4 linked regions of the Homo sapiens genome follow. The protein of the gene in region 4 interacts with the protein of the main gene of each other region in a pairwise test. Each region holds a gene or a part of one and is shown on either strand. Other genes may lie near its edges. The genes, in order: SLC12A7, BEX1, EOMES and OTP.

Evidence for each region.
Region 1: the proteins of OTP (region 4) and SLC12A7 interact in binary tests that used the Homo sapiens proteins (3 or more experiments, as listed by UniProt).
Region 2: the proteins of OTP (region 4) and BEX1 interact in binary tests that used the Homo sapiens proteins (3 or more experiments, as listed by UniProt).
Region 3: the proteins of OTP (region 4) and EOMES interact in binary tests that used the Homo sapiens proteins (3 or more experiments, as listed by UniProt).

What each region holds. Positions count from the first base shown.
Region 1 is NC_000005.10:1,049,884-1,055,206, forward strand, and holds the end of SLC12A7 (solute carrier family 12 member 7), read right to left. Parts: intron 3,600-5,323; coding exon 3,466-3,599; intron 2,569-3,465; coding exon 2,477-2,568; 3' UTR 501-2,476; downstream 1-500. UniProt on the Homo sapiens protein: Mediates electroneutral potassium-chloride cotransport when activated by cell swelling. May mediate K(+) uptake into Deiters' cells in the cochlea and contribute to K(+) recycling in the inner ear.
Region 2 is NC_000023.11:103,061,255-103,069,621, forward strand, and holds BEX1 (protein BEX1), read right to left. Parts: upstream 2,918-8,367; 5' UTR 2,842-2,917; intron 2,478-2,841; 5' UTR 2,388-2,477; intron 2,026-2,387; 5' UTR 2,021-2,025; coding exon 1,643-2,020; 3' UTR 1,397-1,642; downstream 1-1,396.
Region 3 is NC_000003.12:27,718,696-27,728,134, forward strand, and holds the start of EOMES (eomesodermin homolog), read right to left. Parts: upstream 3,629-9,439; 5' UTR 3,600-3,628; coding exon 2,719-3,599; intron 1,631-2,718; coding exon 1,476-1,630; intron 787-1,475; coding exon 665-786; intron 199-664; coding exon 40-198; intron 1-39. UniProt on the Homo sapiens protein: Functions as a transcriptional activator playing a crucial role during development. Functions in trophoblast differentiation and later in gastrulation, regulating both mesoderm delamination and endoderm specification.
Region 4 is NC_000005.10:77,627,251-77,636,393, forward strand, and holds the end of OTP (homeobox protein orthopedia), read right to left. Parts: intron 7,211-9,143; exon of another isoform or gene 5,473-7,210; intron 3,545-5,472; coding exon 3,014-3,544; 3' UTR 1,462-3,013; downstream 1-1,461. UniProt on the Homo sapiens protein: Probably involved in the differentiation of hypothalamic neuroendocrine cells.

The sequences.
Region 1 (5,323 bases), about 77 Mb from region 4:
ATGGTGGCTCATACCTGTAATCCCAGCACTTTAGGAGGCTGAGGCAGGCAGATCACTTGAGGTCAGTTCGAGACCAGCCTGGCCAACATGGTGAAACCCCATCTCTACTAAAATACAAAAATTAGCTGGGCGTGGTGGTACACGCCTGTGATCCCAGCTATTCGGGAGGCTGAGGCAGGAAAATAGCTTGAACCTGGGAGGCGGAGGTTGCAGTGAGCTGAGGTGACGCCACTGCATTCCAGCCTAGGCAACAGAGACTGTCTCAGAAATACAGAGATTGGGTCACTTCAACACACAGCACTAGGAAGTTTGGGGTAAGGTCATTTCCAAGCCGATGACATGATTTGGAAGCCCTCGTCCAATTCATATGGTCACTCTTCAGCCACCTGAGTTGGCTGTGGCTGGTCAGCCCTGACGCTCCTGCTAGAAAAGGGGCGGCCAGTACATTTTCTCCAGCTGTCTTTCATGCTGAATGAGACTCAAGAGATTCTTCAACGTACTCAGATTTCATAGGATTTTATTTTTCTACTAACACAGACAGACAGGGAAACCTACAAAAGGAAACGGAGTCAATTGTAAATGGCTGTAGTTACTGGTTACACGGAGTTGACAACACAAAGGATGCCTGGTGCTTGCGTGCAGAGGCTGCAGCCCAGGGCGGGGGCAGAGCTGAGCCCTCAGGAGGTGGTTTCGTGTGCAGAACTGAGCGGCCCTCAGAAGCAGGGCTGTTTTCCAGCCACCAACCAACGTTCAGAGCCAGCACCATGTGGCCGCTGTGCCTCTAGCCTGCTCTCCTCCAGGTGCAGGGGACACAGGACCTGCCGGCCCCATCCAGACATGGAGGAGCGTTTTGCTGCTTAACTCATGCTTAGCCAAGGCAGGCAGAGGCTGTGGGAACTGCTGAGCCCCGCTGTGATGTCTGGGACACGCTCTGGGCAGCAGCCGTCACTCTACAGCAATGCCAGCCCTAGTCTGGCTCCTCAGAAACATCTGGGGGCACAAGTGCAGCCTCTGCCCCGATTTGAACTTTGTTGATGGGGCTGATTCCCTTGGGAGACCATGCAAGCCAGACGTAGCCCAAGGCCTGGCCATCTGGGGCCTCTAGTATATAGAAGCAACCTCTTTATGGACAACCTTGTTACCACGTAACTCCCTGGGGTGTTTAAATAAATAAATATGCCACATAGAAAGGGAGGCCCAAGTCGGTGCCACTGCCCGCAGCCTGCAAATGTGACCACAACCTACAAAGCAGAAACTCACAGCCAGCCGAAGTGCAAAGTGTTGGGCCCTTGAAAGCTATCTCTTCAGTGCCACCGCCGCCTCCATGCAAGGCACAGGCCATGGCAGGGGACGCCCGGGACTCAGCCAGACAGACCTGACACCAGGCGCCACTGCTGCCTGAGGACCTCCCACGTCGGGTCCGTGTCCTCCTTCCCTGGAGCACCGGGGTGGGGATGGCACGTGTGAGCCAGCTCAGAGGCTGAACTGTGTGCCGTGCTCCTGGGGTGGGGTGGGGTGGGGAGGGCAGTCCTGGCTGTCGTGGGCTGTCGGGGGAACTCACTGTTCACTCTGCGCGCGTGTGCCCCTGGGTTTCAGTGCATTTGCCTGCGTGAGGCACTGATCGCACCTGTGGCTGTGGGCTGGGCCCTGTCAGTGCTTATGAAAAGAAGTGGCTGGTTTTCTAAAGGTGGATGGAGACTCGGACAGCTGCAAACACAGCCCGGCATGGCAGAGCCACAGCTGGGGGCCCCTTCCCGGAGCGTAGGCCCTGATGAACTGAACGTGTTCACCACACACCCGACAGATGATCCACCACGTTCTGGAAAAGCCGAGTTCCCTTTCCAGATGGCCCTGGCCCACGCCTCAGCTCATGAAATGTGGACCTGCCGAGCCCAGAGGCTCCCACACGAGGGTGACACGGGCATGGACAGAGTCCTCCAGCTTCAGTGCCTTGAGGTACAGAAACACAAAGACAGTCAAGGAACAGAGTGACTCGGAGGTGACCGGGGCCCTGAGCGGAGCCATGGCCAGGGCTGACGTTTCACCTTCATCATCAGGGACAGCTTCAGCTCCGGGTGCTCTTCCAAGAATGTTCTGGATGGGGTAGAAATGCAACCTAACCACTGGGTAAATCCAGCCAAGGAAAAGAACTTCCAGAAACCAAGGCAAGGGCTCACTGGCTTCTTGTGACCTGCGAGAAGATCTGGCCACGTCCAGGTCACTCCGGTAGCAGCGTCTGCCCTCAGATGCAAGGAAATCGTCCAGCCACGCCCTGATTTGCTGAGCCTGTTAAGGCTGAACAGGAGAGCCCTAGGTGACGGGCCTAGAAACTTCCGTAGGAAGCCCCATGGGCAGCTTGGGCGGCATCACTGGGGGACAGGTGTGTCTGCCGTCTGTTTCCCTGGGCCAAGCCCAGGCCCAGGCTGCCCACGCCGTCCTCCGTGCCTGTCCCAGAGTGCCGTGATGCTGTTGGGCATTAGGAGTAGATGGTGATCACCTCCCGGCCGCCACCCCTGACCAGGAGGACTCTGTTCAGCCCCTCGGTCAGGACTTCAAGAAACTCCATGTCTGTGGTCAACAGAGTTAAGGCCACAGCTGATCTTACCTGAGCGTGTGTAGCTGAAATCGTGATAGGAGTGAGGTTTATCCTCTCCTGGTTAGCTAAGATTTGGTTTGAGAAACCCAGAGCCAAGGTGAAAAGAGAGGTGGGGATTAGAGAGACCCCCCAGGCGGGGAGGAGCAGGGCAGGGGAGAGAGGGGCCAGTGCTCGGGAAAGAGAGGGAGCACCGTGGCCACAGGGAGGACGAGCAGAGACAGCGACACAGCCCACGGTGCTGACCCCACCCGACAGGGAACCCCAGCCACGGGACTGGGTCCTCACCAGCCTACAGGGGACCTGGGCCACGGATTCCGATCAGGACGCATGGAGGACATGCCCTCACTGGCCCCAGTTCTTGGTGCCAACCTGGCAGGGATGTGCCAGGCGTCACCCTGTCTGTGCCAATACGCCCAGATGCACTGCGGAGTTCTCCTTCCAAAGCACAAATTCCCAAAGCTGCGACCAATTGTGGCCTTAAAGCCGAGAGCTGGGCTCCTCACCTCCCACCGTTGTCGGCGCAGGGTGGGGCTGAGCCCCAGCGGAGGTCCCAGAATGCACAGCTGCTGTGGGGATGCATGACAGGGAGCCTCCCAGCCCCAGGGCAGCCCTGAGCACCTGGGGACAGTGGGGCTGGTACTGTAGGCGGGCCCTCCCTCCCCCACACCAATGCCAGGGCTGGCCCCAACTCTGGCCCGGTCACCACTGGGCTCAGAGCCCCACTGCATCCCGGTCGTAGCTCCCAGAGCCTGGGGCTGAAGGAGAGGCGGGAAGCCAGCCTCACTCCCAGCACCCACAAACCCAGGTCTTAGCGAGAAGCCACCAGGGGGTGCCCGCACGCTCAGCAGGCACACTGCAAGAAAGGATACAGTTCTCGTCTCCCTGCCGGTTTTTGGGAGGACCTGGCATGTTGAGCAGGACCAGCTGCGCATCCTGGGACTTGTTGAGGACGACGCCATTGAGCTTCACAGCCGTGTGCATCCGCCTGACGTTGGACTGGTCCCTGCAGGGGAGGTGGGCACGGTCAGCGGGCGGCGGGTGCACCCCACGCTCCGGACACGAGGCTGAGCTGAGCCCTGATGAGCTGCATTCACACGTGTTGGAAAGGGCTGTGTGAGTCAGGATCAGGCGGATTCTCTGACCCTGAAGGATGCAGAAGTGGCGGCTCCGAGCGAAAGGCGCTGACTGCAGCCAGGGCGGGCGTTCAGCAGCGGGATGCTTTGGCCTCCAGGGACCTAGAACTCAGCCCACTAAGGCTGCCAAGCTTCTAAGGGCTACAGTCACACAACACAAACCGCAAGCGCTTTCCTAACTACATCTACATCTGCAAAGCAGGCAGAACAGTGGAAGCCGTCTGGGTGGCCCATGTGCCTGACGCCTTCAAGGCTGACACGCTTCTCTTGACATCTACATCATCGCCCCTAAACCCCACGTCAGACACTGCCAAACACAGACCCGTCAGGCTGGGCACACATGGCCTCCTCTCCGAGGGTCCTGATACAACTGGGTCCAAGGGGCCGGAAGCTCAGGAAGGAAAGGCCCAGAGTCCCCCACACCGGCCTGTGCAGCCGTTGCTGCTGAAGCTCCCAGGCCTGACAAGGACAGGGTATGCCGAGGACTCAGCTGGAGGCACAGGCCCTCAGTGGCCACTACTGGGTCCCCTCCTACGGCCCACCCTGCCCCTGTCTGGCCAAGGGCTAAAGGACAAGCACTTCCACCGTGTGGCCGTCCAGCCCCCGCCTTCCGTCCTCACAACGCAGCTCTGCTCCACGACCCTCCCTGTCTGCTCTCTGAAGCTGCTGTGGCCGGTCCATGTCTCAAAGCGTCCCTGGCGGCCTGGGCCCGGCCACAGCCCCACAGGAGGCTCCCCAACCAAGTAGGTTTGGGGACACTGCAGAATCATGCTGTGAGGTGCTCAGGCCCTTGCGGGACAGAGCTTATCTCCCTCCTCTACCCCACGGTCCCCTCCTAGGCAGGCCCCTAAACTGCAGCAGAACTGGCGTTCCAGGAGGCCACCTGGGGAAACGCTGGGCGGAGGGGAGCACTTGCGTTTCTGTGTTGGAAAAACCCGGCCCGTGTGTGGACTTGAAAGTCGGAGCGGGTCTCAGGCCAGCTGCAGCCGTGCGGTCGTGACTGTGGCCCCCTGGGGGAGGTCACCAGCGCCCTGGACGCAGAGGGGCGGCGGCGGACAGACAGAGGCCGCCCATGCAGGGTCATGGAGAGGCCCCACGGACGCTATCCAGGCTCACGCCCTTTGATCCGCTTGACGCTTAAGCCACATAAACGTGATCATAACCACCAATTTCCAGGAGGAACACAGGGAGAGACCTTCTATCTTCTCTCCAGCCTGGTCTAATTACAGATGGGGTCTCTGTCCACAGCACAGTCAAGGGGCTTTCGTGCCAGGAACTTGGAACTTTGAATTCGACTTCTGGATAGACCACAATTACCAGTGTGTTTGGGGACAAAGAGCAGCTCCAGGAAGTGAAAGCAGGCCAGGAGCACAGGGGGGTCGGAGTGGGCAGCGTGTCCACAGCCAGTGAGTGCTGGGGTGAGGCGGAGACCTGGCCCTTGGCTACTGGTGGAGTATGCCGGCCGCCACAGCAAGGAGGACCAGTGCAGACACAGGCACAGACACGCACACTAATGTGTATACGCACACACACATACATGCAGACACACTGATGTGTACACACACAGGCATAGTCACACTAATACACAAGTGCA
Region 2 (8,367 bases), on a different chromosome or scaffold from region 4:
GGAAGGCAGAGGTGCAACAGAGCGAGACTCCGTCTCAGAAAAAAAAAAAAAATTGACATCATAGTAAATATTTACATACCAGTAGCCATTTAGACATTAATGTGCATCAGAATCACCAGGAAAGCTTGCTAAAAACAAAAGTTCTGAAGCCCCATTCAGGGGATCTATGTTGGGACCCAAGAACTTTGTATGAATCCACATTTTCAAGAAATCCCCTGGTGATTCTCACACAGGTGGCAGATTAGCATAGTTTTAGAAACACTGTGACATTACTAAATGAACCCAGTGTTCCTTTAGGAATGGCAAGTAATCTAAGTTACACATCCAAAGTTATTTACTTGTTTAGAAACTGAACCGAGACAAAAACTCAGAGCTCCTGACTCAGTCATTATTAATTTTACTTCGGTTAAGTGCCTGCCTCGTCATGAAGAAACCACAGCATGACCAACAGACATTTTATTCCTGAGAATAGGAACTATGCTGGACTAGTGAGACCTACCTTTGAGCACTCTGCTAAACATCTGAAGGGAAAATCTGAGGATGAGAGTCTTGCATAATAGGTGTGGATGGGAGAAAAAACAGGTAAACACAGGTCTCACACAAATGACCTCATTCCAGTCATGTGAAGGAAATGCCACCCCCAACTTATACAAATTCCTGAGTTTATTTACCTGGCTAAGAGATCCAAATTTGATTAGCAAGTATTTTTTTTTTCTTTTTTTAAGAAAACTTTTAGGTTCCAGGGTACATGTGAAGGTTTGTTACATAGGTGAACTTGTGTCATGGGCTGGGGGCAGGTGGGGGGGTGGTTGTTGCACAGATTATTTCATTACCCAGGTATTAAGCCCAGCACCCAATAGTTATCTTTTAGGTTCCTCTTCCCCCTCCCACTCTCCACCCCTACAGATCCCAGTGTGTGTTGTTCCCTTTTTTGTGTTCATGAGTTTTCATTTAGCTCCCACTTATAAATGAGAATATGCAGTATTTGGTTTTCTGTTCCTGCATTAGTTTGCTAAGGATAATAGCCTCCAGCTCTATCCATATTCCCACAACAGACATGATTTCTTTATTTTTATGGCTGCATAATATTCCATGATGTATATGTATATTTACTTTATCCAGTCTCTCACTGATGGACATTTATGTTGATTCCATGTCTTTGCTTTTGTGAGTAGTGCTGATCAGCAAGTATTTATTAAGTGACTCTACTGCCTTCAAAGGTTATTTAAAAATGTTTCCAATTTTTCTTAAATTACAGAAAATATAAAAAATACATTAACCCATCTCATAGAATGAGTCCCTATATTAATCCTTTGGTATATTTAATTTCAGTACTTTTCTTTTCATGTATTAAGTACAATCAATATAAATTTTTAACAAAAAAAGAATATAGAGATTGCTTTTTAAAGGTGCTTTATTAACTTCACTATAATGAGCATCTTTCCATGCAATAGGTAAAATTCTTCTGCTAACAAAAATCTTACAGACTGGTTCAAAAACACAATATTCAATTAGAAGCTGGTAATAGGAGACCCACGTAAACAAGTGACAGGTAAAGGTTTACAACAAGGGCACATCATGAACATGTAAATTCGAAAGCAGGGGTCTGTTTCCGTAATAACTTTAGGGAAACCATCAGGATTCAGGGCATAAGGCAAAACTCATCATGATGGTCATGGTGAGGGGGGTCAGTGCTGACTGCCCGCAGACTATGACTCAACTGCTTTTCCCTCAGCTTTTCCATCAGCTGTCTCACCTCCTCCCCAATCCTTTCCATATTCTCTTCTCTCATCCTTGCCTGTGGTTCTCCAAGCCTATGCATCATATCCCATCTATACTGCAGGATGGGCTGCCTAACGCGGAACCGCCTACGATTTCCTCTAGGCACACAGTATTCACCAGCATCCAAAGGGAGGGCCAAGGGCTCCCCTTTATTAGCAACTTGCTCCTTTTCTTCATTTTCTTGGTTGGCATTTTCCATGCTGAGACTGTTTACTGCTCGTTTCTCTTTGGACTCCATTACTCCTAGGAGACAAAAGGAGAGAGAAGGGGCTGAACAGCTGGTGAACGCTTCAGTACCGAGGACAGAGGCACGGCTACTCATTTTTCAGGATTCCGCGTCATGGCTATCAACATGTTTTGTTTTGTTTAATTTCACGTTTCCCACCAGAGAGGTTTCGTGCGCCCACTAGGGGGCCCCCATTCGAGCCCGCCCCCCCCCCCACCTCTCGTGTCTTCCCCTACCTGCCCCCAAACCCACCATTTTCCCTACAGATCCATCCCTAGATCTCGGCAGGCACCAAAATGGAGGACGGGAGATGGGGGAGTTGGGAGGGGACCTCAGACTGGACTCTGCACCCGCCCCCACCACCGTCCCTCGCACTGACCTGGGCCTATCCTTGTAGTCTCCTCCTTCTCCCGATTCTCGCCACGAGGTGCGCCGCCGGGACACTTGGCCCCGCAGACCTGCAGAAGGGCTGGGGTGTGGGGAGGGGGGGCTGCTGCAGCGGAACGCTAGCTCCTTCTCCGCCTAGGGCCCTCCTCACTGCCAGCGCCCCGCGTCTCCCGCCCCCCGCTCCCACCCTCGGCCGCCTCGCCCCCCGTGGTGTTCACCGTTTTCCTGCAAGGACTCGGGAATGGTTTTCCATCGCTCTTGGTTGCTCTGCTGCCCCTGGAGCCCCAGCCGCCACTGCTTCCCCACCCCAGGGGACCACTATGTTCCCAAGAATGTTGGGGTGTGGAGAAAGCTGGCGGGGATCCCCTGCGCTGTTCTGCGCTCGTCGGGGGGGTCGGTGAGCCTCTGCTGGCCTAGCCAGGGCGCGCGGGCCCCGGGGCCCTTACCTGGTCCGCTTTCCCCCGGGCCGGATGCCAGCCCGCCGAGCGCAGGGCAGCGGGGAGCTGGTAGCGAGACACGAGTGACGACTGCACCGAAGGCTGCGTAGCTCTGCAGCTCCCGGTCACGTGAGGGCCGTGCGTCACCGCCAAGCTCACCCTCCTTCTCACCAACCCCCACGGGCCGGCGGCCAGTTAACTGGTACTCCCCCCTTTGGAACACACAGACACCCCCCTCCTCCCGTCTGTGCGCGGTGCCCCAGTGCGCACAGCCCCGTCACTCATCTCCGTCCTCTCCAATCTGAGGGCCCACAAGTGGCATCATCGCTTTGCGGTTGGAGTTTACCCATCTTCGGTTATTTGGGAGGGTCTGTACCCTTCCTTTCCCCCACCCCAAACCCCCTTCCTCTGGCCTTGGCCTTTTCTTCTTTCCTCTTCTCACTGGCTGTGTATATGCTTCCTAATAATTTCTCTTTATTTCCTTTTTAAAAATCAGCATCCCTCAAAAAATTGAAAATAATCAAATTTTATTTTTGAAAGAAACACTTCAACCTGGGAAAGTAATATATATATATAGTTTATGTTCATCTATAGCACACAGAAAACATTTTCTCTAGGCTCCACACCATCATTTTTAGAGCATTCTCACTTGTTTGAAAATTTTATGAAAAAAAGGAGAGAAAATTTTCCTGAACACAGTTGGTGTTTTCAAAATAATCTGTGAAGTAAATCTTCAGGAAACAGTTCTGTTGTCAGATCTTGGCCATTTTATGTAAATAATCTACGTTTTTATCCTTCTGGGACAAATTTCAAGTTTTATTAATAAACATTTCTATTTTATTCTATTATAATAAACATTCATTAAATATGAAAAAACATTTGCTGACAACTAATGCCACCTGCTAAAATTAGTGGCTATCACTGTTGATGGTTTGAAGACTTAAGCAAAAGGAAGAGCTGTGAGGCCAAGGCAGGTTGAGTGACGCAGAGATAGAGTATCCCTGCCCTGACAAGAGGTTGGGAAGGTGCTGGTCTTCCACTGTTATATTCGAGAGCTTCTTAATTCCTATGTTCAGACTCCTAATTCTGTTGCTTACTCCAAAAATATAGATGGACAGGTGACCAAGGTGGTGACCTTAATATATCACTTTGGCTCCTTCCTTCTATTTCTTCCCCAAATTCCCACCTAATGACTCACTTCTCAGCATAGTTGGGAGGTCTCTTCCCATTCTGGAAACCAGAATAGGGCTTTTCTACAGCTCTGTGGTGAGAGATTCCAAGAAAAGCCTAGAAGTAATTGAGGAGGTGGGAGGAGTGGGGAGCAGTTCTCAAACCTGCCTGCTCTCTTCTCTTTTTCACCCACCCCGGGGAAAAGTCTCTTTGGGACATTTTTGCTATCTCTCACCTGGCTTTTGTAGTGCAGCATACCGAGACCCTCACCCTGACTGTCTCACCTCCAGGTCACCCAGAAGAGCTTAGTCTTGCTGCAGGGTCACTATCTGCCAGTCCATACCCACTCTGATACCTCTTCATTTATGCTAGGGCCTGGGGAACACTCTCCACTGACCATTCTTACTACACTTGGCTTTCTCAACTCAGAAGCCTGTGGAAGCCCTTAATACTACTATTTCTTCTTTTTCTTCTTCTTCTTTCTTCCTTCTTCCTTCTTCTCTCTTCTCTCTTCTTCTTCTTCTTCTTCTTTTTCTTCTTTTCTTCCTCTGTCTCTCTCCCTCTCTCTCTCGGTCTCTCTCTCTCTCATCACTTCTTCTCACCTTAGACATGTTTATTTTCCTTTGTTTTCTACCTTAGTACTCACCCCTTGACCAACCCAGAAATGTGGCTATTATCCTTGAATCACTCTACATTGTCCCTCATATTCAAATAATAACCAAATCTGGTTAAGTCTCAATTTATATATGTGTGTGTGTGTGTGTGTGTGTGTGTGTGTGTGTGTGTGTGTGTGTATATATATATTTTTTTTTTAGATGGAGACTCACTGTGTCAGCCAGGCTGGAGTGCAGTGGCGTGATCTTGGTTCACTACAACCTCTGCCTCCCAGGTTCAAGGGATATTCCTTCCTCAGCCTCCAGAGTAGCTGGGACTACAGATGCACACCACCATGCCCAGCTAATTTTTATTTTTATTTTTAGTAGAGACGGGATTTCAGCCATATTAGCCCCGCTTGTCTCAAACTCCTGACTTTAGGTGATCCGCCAACCTCGGCCTCTTGAGTGCTGGGATTACAGGCGTGAGCTACCGCACCTGGCCTCAATTTATATCTTTTAAAAACAACTTTATGGAGATACAATTTGCAATCCATAAGATTGCCCATTTAAAGTGTAAAATTCAATGGTTTTTAGCATATTCATAGATACATGCAACCATCACCACAGTCAACTTCAGGATATTTTCGTCACCTCAAAAAGCGACCTCCTATTCTTTTGCTATCACTCTCCTATTCCCCCATCCTCTTCATACCAAAGCAACTACTAATACGTTTTCTGTCTATAGATTTCCCTATTTTGACATTTCATATGAATGAAATTGTATAATATGTATTCTTTGGAAATTGGATTTTTTATTTAGCATGATGTTTTCAAGCTTTATGATTCCAATATGATTACTCATTTGAGGAATTGCCAAACTATGTTCCAAAGTGGCTGAATATTTTACATTCCTACCAGTAGCATATGACGGTTTTGATTTCTCCACATTCTTGTCAACATTTGTTATTATCTGAAATTTTGATTCCAACCATTTTAGTGGGGGTGAAGTGGTATATCATGGTGGTTTTGATTTGCATATCCTTGATGACTAATAATGTGGTGCATCTTTTCATGTGCTTATAGGTCATTTGTATATCCTCCTTGGATCAATGTCTATTCAGATCTTTGTGCACTTTTTATTTGAGTTATTTTTCTTTTTATTATTGAGTTGCAAGAGTTTTTATATATTCTAGACAGAAATCCCTCACTACATATATGATCTGCAGATATTTTAGCCCATTCTGTGGGTTTTTTAATCAGTTTCATAATGGTGCCTTTTGAAACACAATGGTGTTTGGCCAGGCACGGTGGCTCATGCCTGTAATTCCAGCAATTTGGGAGGCCAAGGCAGGCGAATCACTTGAAGTCAGGAGTTTGAGACCAGCCTGGCCAGCATGGTGAAACCCCATCTCTACTAAAAATACAAAAAATTAACCAGGCGTGGCAGCACCTGCCTGTAGTCCCAGCTACTCTGGAGGCTGAGGCAGGAGAATCGCTTGAACTTGGGAGGTGGAGGTTGCAGTGAGCCGAGATTGTGCCACTGCACTCCAGCCTGAGCCACAGAGCGAGACTCTGTCTCAAAAGAACAAAAAAAGGAAACACAATAATTTTTAATTTTGATGAAGTCTAGATTACCTTTTTCTTTGCTGCTCCTGGTATTGGTGTCATATCTAAGAATCTTTTGAATTCAAGAGTCATTTGAATCTAAGAATCCTTTGTAATCCAAGGTCACAAATATTTATCCCTATATTTTCCTCCAAGAGTTTTATACTTCTAGCTCTTCCATTTAGGTCTTTGACCCAGTTTGAATTAGTTTTTTATAAGGCGGGAGGTAAGAGTGTAACTTCATTCTTTTATATGTGGCTATGCAGTTGGCCAAGCACCATTTGTTGAAAAGACTATATTTCTCCACTGAATTGTCTTGGAACCCTTGTCAAAATTCATTTGAGATTAGCCACATAGTTTTACTTTTGGACTCTCAAAACAATTCCATTGGCCGGGCGTGGTGGCTCACACCTGTAATCCCAACACTTTGGGAGGCCAAGCGGGGCAGATCACTTGAGGTCAGGAGTTTGAGACCAGCCTGGGCAACATGGCAAAACCCTGTTCCTAATAAAAAAATAGAAAAATTAGCCGGGAGTAGTGGCGAGTGCCTGTAGTCCTAGCTACTCAGGAGGCTGAGGCAGTAGAATCACTTGAACCCAGGAGGTGGAGGTTGCAGTGAGCTGAGATTGTGCCACTGTACCCCAGCCCAGGTGACAGAATGAGACTCCGTCTCAAAAAAATAAATAAATAAAATAAAAGCGAGAAATTATTAAGTGTAGTGAGGAAGGCATGTCGAAAGCCAAAATAAAAGCTAGAAATTATTAAGTGTAGTGAGGAAGGCATGTCAAAAGCCAAAATAGGGACAGGTGTGGTGGCTCACGCCTGTAATTCCAGCACTTTGGGAGGCCGACGTAGGCAGATCACAAGGTCAGGAGTTTGAGACTAGCCTTGCCAACATGGTGAAACCCCGCCTCTACTAAAAATACAAACATTAGCCAGGCGTGGTGGTGTGTGCCTATAATCCTAGCTACTCGGGAGGCTGAGGCAGGAGAATTGCTTGAACCCGGGAGGTGGAGGTTGCAGTGAGCCGGGACAGTGCCAGTGCACTCTAGCCTGGGCAAAAAAAAGGCAAAACATCCTTATTGCTAATATGGAGAAAGTTTTAGTGGTCTGAATAATAGATCAAACCAGCCACAACACTCCCTTAAGCCAAAGCCTAATGCAGAGCAAGGCGTTAACTCTCTTCAGTTGTGTGAAGGTTGAGAGAGGTGAAGAAGGTGCAGAAGAAAAGTTTGAATCTAGCAGAGGCTGGTTCACGAAGTTTGAGAGAAGACATTATCTCCATAATGTAACAGCACAAGGTAAAACAGCAAGTGCTGATATAGAAGCTACAGCAAGTTACCCAGAAGATTTAGCAAAGATAATTGGTGAAGGTGGCTACGCTAAATGACAAATGTTCAGTGTAGATGAAACAACCTTCCACTGGAAGAAGATGCTATCTAATACTTTCATAGCTAGTGCTATCTAATACTTTCATAGCTAGTGAGAAGTCAATGCATGACTTCAAAGCTTTAAAGAACAGACTCACTCTCCTTTGTTAGGGGCTTATGCAGCTGGTGACCTTAAGTTGAAGCCAATGCTCATTGAAGATTCTGAATATCCTAGGGTCCTAAAGAATTTTGCTAAATCTACTCTACTTGTGCTCTAGAAATGGAACAACCAACCAAGCCTGGATGACAGCATATATGTTTACAGCATGGTTTATTGAATATTTTAAATTAACTACTGAGAACCATTGCTCAGTAAAAAAGATTCCTTTCAAAATATTACTGCTTATTGACAATGTACCTAGCTACTGAAGAGCTCTGATGAAGATGTGCGAAGTGATCAACGTTGTTTTCGTGCCTGCAAATACAGCATCCATTTTTCAGCCCACGGATCAAGAAGTAATTTCGACTTTCAAGGTTTATTATTTAAGAAATACATTTCATAAGACAATAGCTGCCATAGATAGTGATTCCTCTGATGGATTAAGGCAAAGTAAATTGACAATCTTCTGGAAGGGATTCATCATTCTAAATGCTATTAAGAACATTTCTGAATCATGGGAGGAGATCAAAATATCAACATTAACAGGAGTTTGGAAGAAGTTGATTCCAATTATCATGGATTACTTTGAAGGTTTCAAGATTTCAGTAGAGGAAGTCACTGCGGATATGGTGGA
Region 3 (9,439 bases), on a different chromosome or scaffold from region 4:
CTTAGCTTTAGAGATTCTTGAGATGTCTGGGACACTCACATCGGTGTTTTGGTAGGCAGTCACTGCAATGAATTGCGTTTCTGAGAAGGTAAAAGTCTGGGTCTTTGAGGGCTCATTCAAGTCCTCCACGCCATCCTCTGTAACTTCAACAATATGCAGTCGGGGTTGGTATTTGTGTAAGGATTGTAAGACTATCATCTGGAAAGAGTACAGAAAAAAATTGCTAAATCTAAAAAGCCTCTTAGTGGTTCAACAAAATTAGATTTTGACAAATTATGTATTTTGGTATTGGACTTCTAAATGCTCCTCACTAACAGCTTTGTTTATTGCAAGTTTAAAGGTCTCATTATTGCCCCCCCCCTTTTTTTTTGAAATTTAAATCATAGCTGGGTATGTGGTTGTGATAGATATGCTTTCCTCTTGGTTTCCTAAATTCCCAAAATACTTCGCTATTTCTGTTCTTAATAGTCAACTCACTGTTATCGAAATCCAATAAGAAAGTGAAGATGAGAAAGGTCAAAAGAACAAAAATGGTTAGAAATAGGCGAGCAAACAGGTCACAAATGCAAATATTATAAATACAGTGAAAAGAGTAGGGACTCTTATTAGAAAAAAGCCTTATAGTCAAAGCCAGAAGATATCCCCTCCTGCTCTGTCACTCTACCTGGGTGTTGTTGTTATTTGCGCCTTTGTTATTGGTGAGTTTTAATTTCCCGAATGAAATCTCCTGTCTCATCCAGTGGGAACCAGTATTAGGAGACTCTGGGTGAACATACATTTTGTTGCCTAAGAGAAAATGAAACAAAACACAAAACCCAAGCATATAGGGCTGTTTACAAATGGAGAAAGCGGAGGGATGTCTCTTAGCTATGAGCAAGATATAAGAGCTAGACTTACAGTTGGTCTCCCAGTAAAAGTTGCTTAAAGAGGCCAGTGGAGACCAGCAGGACTACATCCATATCCCTCCCAGGCCCCTGTGCTTCCAACCTTCCTTGCACTAGGGACTCCCCTGAATGGCATTTCAGAATTTAGAAACGGAGCTAACAAGAGATGACTCTTGAAGGTCAATTTGGGGCCTTCTAAAGCTGTAAGGGCAACATCCGATGGAAGACAGTTGGATATTTATGGGTGAACTAAACTTTGGCTGGGCTTTCTCAAGTGAACATTAGAATCCCAGGAGCCCTTCCCACCTGGAGAGCTTATGACTACTGATTTGTTAAACGTAGGGATTGGGGGGTGGGGTGATGTCTTAGTTAAAGGTTCTAAATATCTACATATTGGCAGACAAGAAATCTGACTTAGCAAACTCTCCTCTCCGTCAAACAAGCAACTCAAAGACACTCATACTAACACCTCTAGGCCTCAGAATGGAAGGGGAAAAAAAAAGTGCTACATTTAAATGTGAGTTGTGTGAGTCGAGGGTTACGATTTCTTCCCGCCCGTTCCTCCCCGGCCCGAGCCTCTTCTCTGCTCACCCTGCATGTTATTGTCGGCTTTGCCACAGGTCACCCATTTGCCCCCCTGGAAGCGCCAGTGGTTGGGGTCCGCCAGCACCACCTCTACGAACACATTGTAGTGGGCAGTGGGATTGAGTCCGTTTATGTTGAAGCTCAAGAAAGGAAACATGCGCCTGTGCAAGGGAATAGAATCAGAAAAATCGATTTTAATTGGGATGTCCTAGAACAGGCCCAGGCCCCAGCGGGTTCCCCAGACACCTGGGATAGGGTCGGAACACATTTAAAAGTTTGCAGTGAACAGAATGCTGGTAGATCAAGTGGTCTGAAACTATGTAAAATATTTTTGAGTTGGCAACTCTTGGAACCTTTCCGTCTTTTCAAAAAAAAAAAAAAAAAAAAAAAAAAAAAAAAAAAAAAAAGCTTGCCCCAACATCGGTATATTCCAAATTCGCGCGTGCTTCCGAAGGCTCATATTCTCGGCCCTTTCAGACGCTCTTAAAATTTTTCTCCTAGAATGTTAAAAACTACTAATTTTTAAATGCACCATTTTGAAAAGTACCAGAGAACAATATTAGGTTATTCTTGTTAAAAATATATATTAAAACTTTAGGCTAAAAGTCCCCTTTGAGTGCCCCTCTCTCAGCACCCACCCCTCCCTTTCCCCAGAAGTAGCCAGTGTTAGCAGTTGGATGTATATCAGAACTTTCTCGCGCACCGAACCCGAGCCAGGTCTGGCTCCAGGGCAGATCTAACCACCTACTCCGACCGAGCTTCCGAGGCCGGCGCTCTAGCCTTCATGCCCACCTCCCGGAGACGCCCCGTGGAGACCCTGGCGCCTAAAACTGCGGGAGCCCATCTACTGCGCTCAGGTGGCCAGCTCTTGAGCCTTCCCTATCCGTGGCTCCTTGCCGGCATGCAGGCATGCACAAGCATACCGCCGAGCAGGAGGATCTAACGAATCCAGCTTGTGGACATGCCCTAATTTCCATTTCCGCCTCCTCCAGGTCTGTTCAGGTGAGGATGATGGGAGGGAAAAGCGGTGTACAGCCGTAACATTGGCACCCTGCAAGAGCCGCCGGGGCACTGACACAGAGGGACACCGCATTGGAGATGCGGTGTCTACGGAGATTTATTGCGCGCGGTGAAACACTCTAAGCACCGCGCGGAACAACTGGGTTCAGCTCCCTCATCCCGGACCTTCCCCAGGACCACACGTCACCCTTTATCCCCGAACCCAGGGGCCCCTCCACGCTGCGCTCACCTGCCCTGTTTCGTAATGATCATCTCAGTTTGGTGGCGGTGGAATTTGAGCCACAGAGGCCGGTTGCACAGGTAGACGTGGGCACGGAAGCCAGAACCTGGAACCCCCAGGCCCCCCAGTCCTCCGCAAGATCCCGCCGCTGCGGCTCCAGGGTACGGCCCGTAGAGCGGAGCCCCCTGGCTGTACTGATAGGTGCCCGGGCCGCCGCCCCCGCCGCTGCTACCGCCCGCGCCACTGCCCGCACCGGCTCCTGGGCCGAACTGCGCCCTCCCGGGTGGGCACACAGCCGCGGGGAAGCCGCCGGGGGGCAGCATGGAGCCGTAGGGGTAGCGCGCCCCGTTAGGAGCCGGGTACACAGGTCCGTGGGGCGCCCCAGCCGCCGCCTGGTACGGGAAGAGTGAGCAGGGCGCAGCCAGCTCCGACCCCTGAGGACCGGGGGACTGGAGGTAGTACCGCTCGGAGCTCAGGCTGTCCATGGAGTAGCGCGCAGTGGCCGCAGCCGCGGCGGCGGCGGCGGCGGCGGCTGCAGCGGCGGAGGGCAGCTCCTCCTCCCCGCAGGGGGAGCCCTTGCGGCCGTCCGGGGGCCCCGGCTTGGCCACTGCCGCAGCGCTGGCAAATGCGTCCCCGGCGTCGGTGTCACTAAGCATGGCCGCGGGGGCCCCTGCGCTGGCGGCTGCGGGCTCCCCGCTCACCGCCTCGCAGGAGAGACTGCCGGAAAACTTCTTGGACGCTTTGTCTAAGTCCAACTTCTGAGGAGAGGGGGCCGCGCTGGGGAGGTGGCCAGCGCTCCCGCCGCTGCCGCCTCGCGCACTCTCCAGCGGGTAGAAGTGCGCGCCAGGCAGGTTCACTGAGCTCACCAAGAGCTGCTCCCCTAACTGCATGCTTTGCAAAGCGCAGACGGCAGCTGGCTGCTTCCTCTCCTCCGGTGGCCTTATTATAAAGGCAGGATGGGGGAGCCAGCGCCCTCTTCCGAGGGGAAGGTAACTTCCCCTTCCTCCCGCGCCGGGGCTACCCACCTGCCGACTCGCGGGCCGCTACTGCGCGTACTGGCGCGCCCTGAATCCAGCGTCCTTTCCGGAAGGAAAGCGCCGTGAGTTGGAAAGCAGGAGGTGGAAACTAACCCAGAAGCCCTCTCCTTTTCCTTCCTCGTACCTCTTGCTCCTCAGGACCCCCACCCTCCTCCCAGGCTCACACGCTGGAAGAAGGTGACTTAGATCTTTGTCCCCATCCACCCACTAGCCCGCGCCTTTCTGCCCTTTTTCAATTGCCAAAGCATCGGTCAAGTTGACCACTTGGAAACTTATGGGCTGTCACTAGCTGCTTTATATATTTGCGGCCAGGGAGGGGCTTCCCGGCCTCACAGCCCGGAGACCCTCCTATTGGCTGGTGGAGGTGACACTAATTCAATTAGGCATTTACTAATTGGATCAAGTCGCCTGTGACTTTCTTTTCCTTTTTTTTTTTTTTTTTTTTTTTTTTTTTTTGAGACTGCGTCCCGCTGTGATAATCAATCCTGGTGTCTGTAATTTCGCCGGAATTTAGGGGGACAAAGTTTGGGGTCTCCATAGCGGTGTCCACCCTTGGCGCATTAGTCATCTCAGCCCTCCGCTGGAGGAATGAGATGGCTGGAGCAGATTTTAGAGGCCAGAGAGAGAAAGACTCTTCAAGCTGATAGCTTGCAGGGAAGCGCCCGTCCCGGAGGCTGGGGAAACTGGGGCAAGTTGGAGACAGGCCCAAGGAAGTCTCTTTCCTCGTCGGAAGCTGTAACTTCAAAGCACACCTTCCTCTTGTCGAAGGCAAACTCCCTGGCCTTCAACGCACAGAACCACTTTTTGTTTGTTCCCATCCTTTTACCCAGTGGGAAAGGTTTGTAGAGAGGAAACTCGCGCTAAGCTTTTGGGATTCCGGGGACGGCCAGAGCACATTGCCATCCTGGAGGACCTAAGCTCTCAGCTTCTAAATCAGAAGCTTGGACAGGGTACTGGGGACAGGACAAGAGTGAAACTAAGCGAGCTAACACCAACTTCATACTCACGCCAACACAACTGCTTTCGGGGAGACAGTCACTTTTATTCCCCACAATTTAAAATCCTTTCTGCTCAGTTTTCCTGATCCCGGATTCCGTCCCTTCACCACCATCTTCAGTTAGGCCTGACACCAAGAAACAAAGCTTCCCTAACAGCCCCACAGTTAGGATTCCCTGCGCCTCTGCTCTGCGGCAAATACAGAAGGTAGAATAATTAGTGAAATAATCAGTTTGATATTGAATTAAACTCCAGCTGCTTGTTTCTTCGCTGCGTTTCCTCAGATAGATTCAAGAGCGGGGCCGTCATATTTTATCGTTTCATTATTACGGAAGCGGGGGGCACGTTTCGTTGCGGATAAGGAGAAGCCTGAATATTCGCTGTTAATAAGCAATTACAGACGCCGCCAGTAATCGCTCCGGGAGCGCATTTTCCGGCTGAGATGTCGGGACTCTGCTTCCCCAACCGAACGCGATCACACGGGAAACTCTTCGCCCACAACAGATGAGATGGCCAAAGGATTGCTGAGTGCGCACACGCAAGTGTAGAACAGTGCGAAGCTTTCCAACCCAGTTTTCCAACCACAGCAGCACCAACATCGGCATGTCTGGGGTCTCCGAGAACGAGGTCCTTAATGCACTTAGACTCTCCAGGGCATTTATCACGGTTTTTTTTTTCTTTTTTGATGTGTGTGTTCGCGCGCTCGCGCGCTCGCGTGTGTGTGGTGGTGAAACCCAGGAGTGCGCGAAGATTTTCAGGGTCAAGGCACAGCCACAGGGGAGGGGGCAAGTTGAGACTAGTGGGCTGGGGCGGTGGCCTTGTAGGTCCTGGGACAGAGTGGCCAGGAGCAGATCGCCAGAAAGCTGGTACTGAGCGCGTTCTGCCCTGCGCTTCCTGCGTTTTGTGTCATCAGTATAGTTAGTGTTTGGCACGGCTGTTTTGATCACTACATTGTCCATGCCTTCCTCCCCTGCTTTAGTGTTATTTTGACCCAAGGAAGTCTAGAACATTGATTGTTCAAGTAGTATAGCTCTGTGAATACCTCATGACTGTCAACGTGAAGATCCCGTGAGGGGTACGCGAGCTCAAGGAAAGAAAGAGGCCGTGCAGCTTGGGCGGCTTGGACGACGTATCTATCCCTGGGCTAGCGGGTCCTGATTACTATTCGTAGGATCCTCCACATTATCCTTTACCTGAGTTGCAAGATATCTAAGGCAAAAGTAGGGATGAGAAATCTCCCTAATGTGAGACCTAATCTCACGTTATTTGGAGCTAGGGTGGCCAAAGGTACATGACAGTTTTGCGCTTTAACAAAGCAAGAAGCGGGCCTCGGCGTCCCTTCAAAATGCTTTTGACGCAGCCAGGGAAGCGCTTCGCGTGGCAAAGTGCCATCGCAGGCAACAGGCATCGTTCCGACCCACTCTGGCGCGAATAACGCGGGCCAGCTGTCCCCCGAGCCACATCAGAAAGCGTTGATTTTATTCCAGCCCCAGAGCAAGCTTTTGAAAGCGCATGAGTTCAGTATGAGCACCACCTAATTATTAAATATACACACGATGTATATAATTAGAATTTGTATTGATTCTTGGGGACAGGAAATTTTGGTTGATATCTACCCACTTCCCCAGTAAATCTATTATTTTTCCCAAACTTCAACACATTTTACATATGGAGGAGCAAAGACAAATTCAAAGAGAATAAAAATTCAGTTTCTATAAAACTACTCTAGGACCCAGGATTTTTGGAACATGGAAAATATGTACATAATATTATATTACATATTGTATTACATTACATTTGTAAGTATATGTTACAAATTCTCTTTAAAATAATGAAAAGCACTGTTTCAGCTACAGATCTTTTTTTTTCTGGCTGAAGATAAAAAATCTCATTTAATGGTTCCTCTGTGTTAATTAGCTAATCACATTATTATTATTATTATTACATTTAGAATATACTAGTCTAGAATGCCTGGAGAGTTATAGATGAGCAAGTCTGTGATTTCCTGCTTGAAATGGGCTTTCCTTTTGCTGGCTCAATATTATAGCCAGGGGAAGAGACATAAAAAATATTTTCACGTGTCCCAGCCACACTTTAAAATCCAGGCACTCCTTTCCAGAAGTAGGAATAGAAAAGAAAGCCAAAGCAGTGGCTTAAGTGAACATGTCAGGCAGCACCCTCCTTAGACTGGGTGGGCAAATAACAGAGCCTTCCAGCCTGTTTGCTGTTTGATTTCAATTACACCCCAAGCTTCATGAAATCCAAATGAGACATTTATTGAAAGGTGCCTGGTTTTATGTGGCTCAACTGACAGTGTATTGGAATACATTGAACAAAAACATCAACACTGGGGAGGAAACATGGAAACCCCTTGAAACCCCAGACCCAAATACCTGCTGGATTAACTCAAATCTTGTACCTTTCAGCCTGAGATGGAGCAAGCAGGAATCTTTAAAGGCTACCAGGAAGCCAAGGCCAAGTCTGTGTGTGAACACATTAAAGATCTCACGCTCTATTGTTCTGAGGAATAATACCAACTTCATACCACTGTCTTGGTCAAAGTTATTGCCAACTTGACCAGATGACCTCTTTATCTCTTTCTCCCCCTTAAAGGTAACCACTAGCCATGCATTGATCTTTTAAAAGCAAAACTGAGAAGCATTTGGTTGGAACAGGATTATTATATAAGAAATACATTTACACACATATGGGTATGTTACAGAGGTGAGTTATAGATGAGTGCAATGATATAAGGTTTACCTCTCCCCATGTGCCACCCACCCCCCACAACCAAGGGGGCCCATATAAATGTCCCAATAAATACTATTATTTTCACCCCCACTAAAAACGTGTTATCAAAACACTGTCCATGTTATTCAAACACTTTGTAAATTCTGAGCAGACTTGCTGCCGGTTCTCCTTTTAACCCTAGGAAAACATTCCAACATTAACCGGTCACCAGCGCTTCGCCTGGACTCTGGGAAAGCGTCAATGGGTTTTTTGTGGTGAGTTGGTCCTTTTACTATTTATCTATGGCCCTTTCTTTGTTGATGTTACATTTTATTTCACCAACTCAGGTTCACTCTTTGGCCCTTTGTTCTCTGATGGCCAGATCTGCCACCTCTGCTGTGCTTTCCAAAGAGGGAGGGAGCTTTAATCACCGTTAGGTTGTTCATGTTTCATTTTTTTTTAAGCAAATGTCCCGTAAGATAAAACATCTTGGCAAAGACAAGCAGTGTTGATTCTGCTGACAAGAGCAAGATACTCCCACCAAAAGTTTCACTTTTATAAGAATTTTTAGAATTTATATTTCACCATGACACTGAAATACACTGACCACTTGCTTTACAAAAAAACAAAAACAAAACAAAACAAAAAAACCCCAAACCAGAGCTACACATGTGTGACGTGAAGTGTTATATTAAACCCATGGTATTTTTTTCAACAAAAATGACCAATTTAAACTATTATCTTTGCTTTAAGTCTATATATCTACATTGCTAATGCACTTTGTGGTTCACTGTTAAAATATGAGGAGGTGAAGGAATCCTGAAATGGAAGTTAATAAATAAACACACTAATAGTTGCTTATTACAAAAGATAAATTATCTTCTCCTAAAGATTGAATCAAGAGTCTTTGGCAACAGCACAAAATCATGACTTACCTTTTTTATGAAAGTAATTTTTAAACTGCTAATGAATTTCTGTATTTAGCTGCTGTTTTATCATCATCATTATCATCATCTTTTTCTTCTTCCTCATCATGTATATGGGAATATATAATAACAAGAAAAGCCACATTAGGCAAAGAAAGTAAAACACTCTCAAGAAAGTGTATTTTGGGAACGTTTGGCTAATTGTTGCTACACTATATACGAAAGTTATACGGGGCTCCATCTATCTTGCTCATTTTTCTACCCTGAAAAGCCTGGAGCACAGTAGGTGCTTATCAATTAAATGAAAAGATTTACTAAACCTGTGTGCTGGAACAGCTAACAGAGGTCAGGGACAGTGTCAGGTCTTAGGCTTTATAACCACAAGGACTAAAGTTTTTTCCTAAGAGAAAAAGAAAACAAAGATCTTTCTAAATTAAAAGACATGATATTTTCATCTTTTTCAGACTTTAAAATATATCATTTTTAAGACCTTTTCTATCTCAAGGTTCTTACATTGTGGCATGGCCTTTGTCTGTATGTCCATGCTAAGCTTCTTCCATAGCAAAATAGAAAAAAAGAAGTTAGTGCTGGAATTGTAGTACAGCTGCTAAGGGAAGCAAACACCATGTCACCAAGGAGAAATGTTAATCTGAATGTAAATCAATTGTACTTTACTAACAGAGTTGACAGAGTCTATGAAAATTAATGTTTCAACAGAAGGCACACCTATGATACAGGTGCAGCAAGATGTCTACACAACAGGTGGGCAGAACCCAAATCCTGTTGACCAAGGCTTCAATATGACAGGGGTAGCTGGAATTCCCCAATCCAGACCCTATGTGAGAAAAGTAGGGAGAGGAAGTTTGGGTTGGGGGCAGAAATAAGTAAGCCCATAACATAACCAAGTAAGAAACAGTGAGAGGGAAGGAGAAAGGAAGGACAGACAACAGGATAGAAAACCGTCGCAGTCATTCCTTAAAGGTCTCCCTTTCCAGACTTCTAAGAGAAAACAGAACCTTGTATCAGAATTGTATGTATTTG
Region 4 (9,143 bases):
GACTTGAGATTACAGTATCCACGATTTCAATTTTTTTTAAAAAAAAGCACTAACATAAAACAAGCGAGAATATGATGAAATGCAAAAACAAGGAAAAGTATTTTTCATTAACTCATATTTTAGAAATTTGGTGGTTGTGTGCTGCTGAATTCTTGGATGAGTTCTCAAATACAGAAATGTTCCGTTCTTGTATGAAATTCAAAATGAGCATGTTTTCTCTTCTTTAATATTTTAATGTACTAAAAATAGTCTTTAGGAAAGTGTATAACTGAAATATTCTGTGAACCCACCCACCAGTTTACCTCTAATTAAAATTCCTAAGGTAACATGAACAGATTTACTTTATCATTAAAAATCATAGCTTTTTGTTCTCATCTCTGAGGAGATTCCATTGTGTTCTCTTAGTTGAGTAACGATTACAACAGCTCCTCAAATTCACATGTAGCCCAGCTGTATTGTATTTTAGCAGGAGGGTATTTTTTAGGGTTTACACTCTGAGGCAACCAAATGAGAAGTCTTCCCGTGGGAAAAGGGGTGCCCTCTCAATGCCTATAATGACCATTAAATTTCAAACCACAAGATTGATTTCGGTTAGCCTTCCCAAGGAAGCCTGTGATATCGATTTGCCTCCAAGTTTAAAACACACCGCAAACCTTCCCCTCGGCCGACCGAAGAAACGGCATTTTTTTCCTACTCCTTTGGGGCAGTCCCCTGAGCACGTGCCTGAAGTCGAGGTTAGTACGCAGCCAGCAGGGACCCTGACAGGAAACCAGAGCAGCCCCGGGGTTGGGGGAGCCCTGGTAGGTGCTGGTCGTCCCGGACACGCCTCTTCTGGAGAAGCGCGTTTGTCCCTTACTTGGGAGGTCCCGGGTATCTGAAGCGGATCCCGGGTCTGGGGACATGAAGGGGCGCCGTGGCCTTAGGGAAGGCCCCAAAGAGGCCTAGGCCCCGGAGGAGGCAAGAGCCGCGGCCTAGCTTCCACCGCGTACCTGGGGCCAGACACGGCTGGGGCGGCGCCGGAGAGCAGAACTCCAGGCTCTGAAGGCCGAGGGTGCGAATTGTGGTCCCCTCCCACCCACGGCCTCCCCATCACGCGCACGCAGCCCGCGAGGGGCGCCCTCCGCGCCACTGCCCCAGGGACACCGTTCATCTGAGGAACTCTCGCGCCCTGCGTTTCGTGCCGACAGCGACGCTCGGAGTCCCACCTGGGAAACCTGGGTTGGCCCGGAAACCTCGGGAGGCTCAGAGCTTGCGTGAGGCGCTCGCGGCGCCCCAGCATGCCGCCCCGTCGCGGAGACCTCACCTTGCAGCCCAGAAACCGAACCCAAGCCCACTGCAGGGCGAAGGGCCCACGCGTTCCAACTGGCGCGAATATAACCATTCCCAAGACCGGCCCCTCCCCTCCCCCCACGAGACCCCTCCCGCCGTTCAAGGTCACACCAAAACCCATCATTCTCTATATCACATACTGAAAATGATTTTATTTTATCCATTTACATTTAACTTGATATAAACTTGTCCGGAAAAGTCAAATAATATGCTTTATATTAGCTCAAACATTTATTAAGAAAACCGAATTCCATAAATAAACACAGACATTAAGTTAAAACATATCACAAATTGACCAGTATGTAACAAGAATGCTTTATCTACACAAAACATCCTATTTCACATATTTGTTCATTCTTAGAAAGCGCTTCTGTTCTCTGGGTTTGGATTTGACCAGCACATGCAGAAAGAGCTGATTGTGTTTCTCTGTACAAAGTTGCAGGGTTGTAGATGTCCGAGTGCCCCCATCGGCTGCCAGCAGGTGGCCGAGGGGCACGAGGGACGACAGGACCACCACAAAACAACCAAGGGCACAGAGCAGCGAGAAGACAGAAACAGAAAAGGAAGCAAACAAACCCCAGTCCTGAAGGATCCAGAAAAGAGATGTGGCTTTTGCTTTTACAAAAGAAAATTTTGCTTACACGTTTATTTTATTCTTCCTTATAAAGACTTATCAAAATGGGTCAGATCACCTCTTCCTCGTCACATGACTGCTTTAGTCTACTCCAGCCACCCAATCCACTGTCACGTTCCTCCTGAGAAGCCTTCCCTTCTACACTCTCACACAGTTGTGCTTAAGAAAATGAAAATAAGATAAAATAAAAATAAAAGCGTTATCTTGCAAGCCAAGAGAGGGCTGCACGGATGTGACTGGGTGGACTGGGCAAGGGTAGCGTGGTGGGAGAGGAAAGAAAGACAGGAGCTTGGAGAGTACAAGGATAAATCAAATCATATCAGTTGGGCCCTCAGATGAGGCGGTTGGTAGCAATGCTTGTCCTCCTTTAAGACAAAAATCCCTAACATTGTGCTGTCCCTTGAACACGTCCGTGTGTGACCTAGGTGCACCGTGTCTGTGCGCGCGCGTGTGTAGCGTCTGAGCGTGAGCGAGAGTGCGAGTGTGTGTGTTTCTGCCCACAAACCAGTCCATTGGTGTCTGATTTCAGATCCTGAGTCGACTCCCTGGTACGTAAAATGGCGGGAAGGATACTTTTTGCCGGGCGCGGGAGGAGGGTCGCGAAGTGTGGGGAAAGAGGGGACCGGAGGGGAGGCGGCGGGCGAGGGGGGTCGTAGGCGTCGCGTCGAAGGTGTGGGTGGGAACGCCGCCCGTCAGAAGGCCAGGAGGAGGGCGCGAGCACGGCCAGCGCAAGCAGGGAGGCCAGGGTGGCGGGAAGGGTGGGCTGAGGCGCTGGAGACCGAGCCGAGGGCGCAGCTGGGTGGGAAGGGAAGAGGGGCGGCCGGGAGACGGGGGACCGCGGGCGATCGAAATCAGGCGGAGGGGAGGCCTCGCGGGCTGGGGCTTGGGGTGAGCCCGAGCGAGTGGAGGAGAGAGGCGAGGACGAAACGAGACGGGGCGAAGGCCGGGGCGGGACGGGGCAGGGCGCCGGGGTCCGGGTGCGCGCCGGAAGGGCCTCGGGGCGGCCCCCGGGGCGGTGCTGGGGGCGGAGCGGGCCGGGGCGCGGCTGCATTAAGTGAAGCTCATAGAGACTGTGTGCTCTAGCGCCTTGCGGCGGAGGGAGGCGATGCTGGTGCCCCGCCACACGTCGCTGCTGTCCGGGGAGCTGCAGAGCTGGGGCGAACCGGAGACGTTGCTGGGGCCGGGGAGGGAGGCGGGCACCATGCCGGGGAAGGCGGGCTGGTAGAGGTGCGACTGCAGCCCCGCGCCGTTGGAACCCGCCAGGCTGTTGGACAGGCCCATGGAGTTGGGCGGCGGACCGGCCGCCAGGCTGCACTGGGACAGCGACTGCGCCATGGCCTGCTGCCTGCCCAGCGCCGGCGGCAGAGGCAGCTGTGACACGCCAGGCATGGCGGCCGCCGCCCAGCGGGTGTCGTTGGCGTGGAAAGAGCACAGGCTGTCGCCCATGGCGGCGGCAGCGGCGGCGGCAGCCGACGGGAACTGAGGCAGGCCTGGCGTGGGCAGCAGTGTGCCGGGCGCACGGAACACGTTGGTCGTCTTTTTGCGCTTCTTCCACTTGGCGCGTCGGTTCTGGAACCAGACCTGGAGCGGGCGGGGCGGGAGACAGACAGGGAGCTATTAGCCGGCCCGGCGGCTGGGGAGTTGGGGCTTGAGCCCCAGAAACCCGCCTCGGATACAGCCGCTCTGCCCTGGGAGGAACAAGTGCCGTAGGCCCGACAAGCCCCCATACCCAGCCGGAGACTGTGGCTCCCCACCAACTCCTGGCAACTGGCGCCCCCTGCACCCACCAAGCGCGGAGTCCTGCGCTCCTAAGAGCTCGTGCCCCGAAGAGTTTACGCACTGTGCAAACACACCAAATGTGTGCAGTCTTCACCACGCCCCTGCACATTCTGTGCACTGCACAGATTCACAGGTCTGCAGTCAGGCATGTGTCAAAGTTCGACCCACAGGTGTACAAATGAAGATAAACGTGTACCCATGTAGCTTAATAGCATGCCTTATAACACTGATGTGCTATAGAATTTTCAGAAACGCTGGAAATTTGGAAATTGATGACAGGCTGTGGATGACATAGTTTCAAAATCGAAAGACAAAGGAAAACCCCTAACGCTACGGTTGACAGAGCGGAGAGGTTAATACAGTGATCTGCGTGGGAAAGTGAACGCCACTGAGCTACAGTGTTGTTTGGGTCACCACCATGACTTCCGATTCCTCCCATATTGCTTCGTGCTACTGCCACAACTCTCCGTGCCTCATTCCCAAACCACTCTATGGACACCTTTGTCTGGGCTGTACGAGTGGCTGGAACCTGCTGCCCCAAGAGCCTTCAACCCTATTCTTTTTTTTTTTTTTTTTTTTTTTTTGAGACGGAGTCTTGCTCTGTAGCCCAGGTTGGAGTGCAGTGGCACGATCTCGGCTCACTGCAACCTCCGCTTCCCGGGTCCCGGCTGAAGCAATTCTCCTGCCTCAGCCTCCCGAGTAGCTAGGATTACAGAAACGCGCCACCATGCCCAGATAATTTTTGTACTTTTAGTGGAGACGGGGTTTCACCATGTTGGCCAGGCTGGTCTTGAACTCCTGACCTCGTGATCCACCCGCCTCGGCCTCCCAAAGTGCTAGGATTACAGACGTGAGCCACCGCGCCAAGCCAAAGTCTATTCCTTTCAGGAACTTACCAAGGGTCCCAAGTAACAAGGCCTCCAGTTCCCTCAAGTCGCCCCCATTTCATTTATAAACTAAAAGCAAATTTTCGGACCAATATGAATTAAAGGAGGTCACATTTCACTACGAGATATATGAATCAAATTTAATTTTGCTCAGACAAACCCAAACGTCCTTTTTCAGGGAAATGAGTTTGATAAAATACACTCCAAATGAAAACAGCCTTCCTATTTTTTTTTTTTTTAACAGTGGCCCGGGAGTTACAGACCCTGTCAGGCAAATTTGCCTAGGCATGTCAAACCCTCTATCACAGAAGAAGAGTTCTGCCTGAAAGATATCACATAAGCTGCCAATCCAAGATAACTCCCATCTCCCCCTATTTGAATGTGATCTTTTTAAATGACAATAATAATAATAATAATTTGCCAGCAAGCCTGCCTGGAAGACTTGCAGTTTAAAATCTGGTCATCTGGCGTTTACTGTGCCTAAATATAAATGATGTAGGACAAGCCCAGGTACTGAGTTTCCTCTTAGAATTTGGCCAACGCAATTTGACCACGATATCCGTGGAAAAAAACGTTGTGCATCCGTTAATCTAACCTATTTAGTGTTTACTCTGCAAGCTAAAGTATCAGGGGTATGGACATACCTGCCCTCGGTCTCGGTGAGCCAGCAATGTTCAGCGGTGTGTTCATGCCCAGGCAAGCGTAGACGCACTCTACGCTTACCAGTGTGAACGGTGTTGCAGTCTAGAATACTCCCCCAGCTTGGGGCCGGCCCTCGCCTTTCTACCGTGCCTGCGCCGTCGCCTACCACTTTCTTCCTGTGGTTTCTACCCCATTTTGCAGATTGCTGCGTATCCCAGTGTCGGCGATGGATAAACAGGTCTCGTCTCTTCCCAGTTGCAGCCCGTGAGCTGGTGGCACAACGGATTAATGAGGCAACAGGGCTCTAGATGGTGAGTGGGATCAATGAGACCCAATTGAGCTGTTAGCGGTCTTAGGCGGAGAGCATCTCTCAGGAGGAAAGGAAGGCACAGCGAGAAGACCTAAGGCCGAAAGTCGCTGTGCAGCACCCACCCAAGGCTGGACTCGGGGGAGGTAGACGGGACGGTGTCTGTGACTAAACGGTTCCCACACCTTACACGCCGCACCGGGATTATGTTTTGAAAGGTGTCTTATAAAATCAAGACCGGTTCCTAACAACCTGCAAGTGCCAGTGAATCCCGAAATGTTTGTTTGAGGAGAGGGAGTGTGAGGGAAGGAGCAGAAAAAAGAAAGAGGGGGAGGATTGCCCAGTAGAATTTCAATAGAAAATGTGACTACCAGAATGGTTTCTGAATCTAGGATCTGCTCAGGCACAGGCGGAAAAGAACAGCTGTTAAAGAACTAAATATTATAGAAATAATCGGAAAATCGTGCTCAATTATGTTTGAGGGTTAGTAGTCAAATGATGGCTACAAATTTTTTTATGTTTCATGGCTTACTGGGATTGGGAAAAAAAATCTGCGTGGGGTCTGAGCACCTCCGTTCCAAGCTACGATGCATATGTTTTTTAAATGTGAATGTTTCCACTTGAAAACTAGAGCATGACGGATTAAAATGCAGGCAAAACCTAAGGGAGATTTTTAGAATGCACAGATGACAACTCCAGGAAATATATTAACCCCAGCCACGGGCCAACTTTGTACTCAGTTTGAAATGCAGCTCTTCTTGGAAAATGCTTAATACAACAGTGAGAATCTAATGGAGGTTGGAATCTAAAAATCCACTTTCATGATATCTGCTGTTACAGTAATATAGACATACTGTAAATGTATTTTAAAATATATAGCCCGTTTAATTCCCCAGCTATAAATGACTGAGAAATAGAAAAAAGAGGGAGAGAAAGAGAGAATATTACTTTTTCCCCCCTTGAAGCAAATGCTTTATGAAGATCTCATTGGAATCCAGCAAATGATTAATGTGAAGATTTTGGAGGAAATCTGGGGAGCTGTATTAAAGCCTAGATCTCAGGTTCATTTCGATCAGCCAGCCGTGAACTCTGGGCCGAATTCATTACAGTTTAATAGTGCTGGGAGAGGAAGAAAATGCAATTTCTCATTCCATTAGAAAACTAGAAAATACTCTCAGTTTGTCCCCCTATTAAGATGTGGCAGGTGACAGGGCCATTCTGGGGGACACGGTCAATGGAATTACAGCACACTATTTTTGTTCATATAAAATATTGAAAGGCAAGCCTGACTGTGCAGAAGTTATTTTACTGATTTGGTTTTTATGTAAATAAAATATTGAAAGTTAATTAATCCATGCTAGAGACTAATGATTATGCTTATTATATTGCATTTGATCACATAATTTGCATGATTCTCACATTGCTGCTTAATAAGCCATTCCAGGTTATAAATAATTCTGAAATTGGTTTCTAATAATGGCATGCTATAAAAGGAATGGTTTTATTACACTGGCCAGAAAAGAGGAGCTATATCAGACATGGAATTGGCCTCCATGTGAGTAGAGATGCTTTAATAAATACTTAAAAGTGTGATATATACCAAATAAAGATAAAAAATAAGTATATTGGATAATTTAGTCTAGAATCAAAAAGCATCTTTAAAAATATACAATTGCAATGAATTAAATGTTTAGATAATTTTTAATCAGCGCAGTGGCCCACATACTGAAAAGAATGTGTGGCAGTCTGTTAACTATAAAGAAAACTATGAAGTATTGATCATATAAGAACATAAGCCAATTACTATTTAATTTGAATTTGGTCAAGGAGCAATGGTACAGTGAATTGTGAAGTAAATACATTTTCCATAAATTATTTTTGCATTACATTACATAATGTTAATCATTTTGAAAAGTTAATTAAGAAGGTTATGTTGATCTGATTACTTTTTAAACTATGGAACATTATTTTTAAAAATATTGAAATTGCCATTCTATTAAATTGTGTCTATCAGCAGGCTCAAGCTATTATCTTTGCTTGAACATTATGCTGGAACAATTAGAGTACTTTGTCTCTTTCTTCTTGTGCATTCTTTTGTGTACTTTTTGAAAATAACTATTTCTGTTACATAGCTTATATTTTATTTCATTTACAACTTTTTCTGTTAAAAGAATAACTGTCATTAACCTTTGGAAGACCTAATAAAGTTTAATAGACCTCGTTTTCTTTTTTCATAAAATCAGTTGTTCAATTATATTTTATTTGTGATTCTAAGTTCTATTTTAATTTAAACTAATTGCCAGTATATCTAGGTTAAGACACAGCATTTTACCCTTTAAATACAGAATTAATAGATAATCTTTCTCTTAAAGGACAAAACCCCAAAATTTATGAATTTCTAACCTGCAAAATTGAACCTACAAGCAAGCACTGTCATCAGTGTTGATGGAAGTATTGAAATTGTATATTTATGTAAAGGTTTAAACTCAACTTCAGATATTTTTTAAAAGGTGAAAAATAAAAATTTTGAAGAGCATTACTAACACATGTTTACAGTTACACAATTAGTACTCTTTTGGTGTGTCGTTTTAAAAGACCATGGTCTAGGCCTTTCACTAGGAAAACCACCCAGACTTATATTGTATAAAAATGCTAATCATTATGTTAATCAACATTACTTTATTAATTTGACCATTTTAAATCCCCAATAATATTCATTTGCTATTAGAGCAGAAGCATGCGCTATCTTTTCAGTTTAGACTATCTTTAAAATGCCGAATGGAGACAGAAACATTCAACGCTGTGATTACGGACGTTCTCATTGCTTACTTCTTAGATCAAATGTAAAGTAACTAAGATCTTAAAGTTAATTTTATAAAAGTAGGTAGCACTGGTTTAACAAATTGACCAGGTTGATGACACCCAGGATATCGTACAGAAAATACCACCGTCCAAGACGGCAAAGGAAGATTTTTCAGCACCCTGGATAGCTCAAGAGTGAGTACCGGCGCTTGGAATTTCACCTCCAGGCACCTGTCCATAAAATATTTGATATGTCTTCATTCTTTCTTTTAAAAAACAAAAAAAAAAAACAAACAAAAATCTGGGATTCACTAGGCTTATACTTTTATTCACCAATTTTCAGAATAATTATAGGTGTGATTTTCTAGGTTATATATAATTTACAGCTTGGAGAGTGGTTGGAGGAGAATAAGGGGTCAGCAATGATTTCCTCTACTGCCTGTCAACCTTTCCCGTTCTGAATGCCCCTTCTTCAGACATGATATCCACAACAGAAAGCCTTCATTTCCCCTCCCCCACCGTAGCTTCCTTAGAGGACTCCAAAACAAAACGGGGCTCACCGGCTTTGGGAATCTCGTCAGCTGCCCCCAGCGCACTGGTAGACTACGAAAGTTCAAACCCCTTGCAAACATCAAAGCTAGGAATATTTCGCCTGAGTGCAGAGGGAGGGTGATACTTAAGGTAATAAAGCCACGCCGTGAAACCTGGGTGTAGCACTTTTTTAAAAGGCGCTCATTCGCCTTATTTGCTCTTTTCTCTTGTT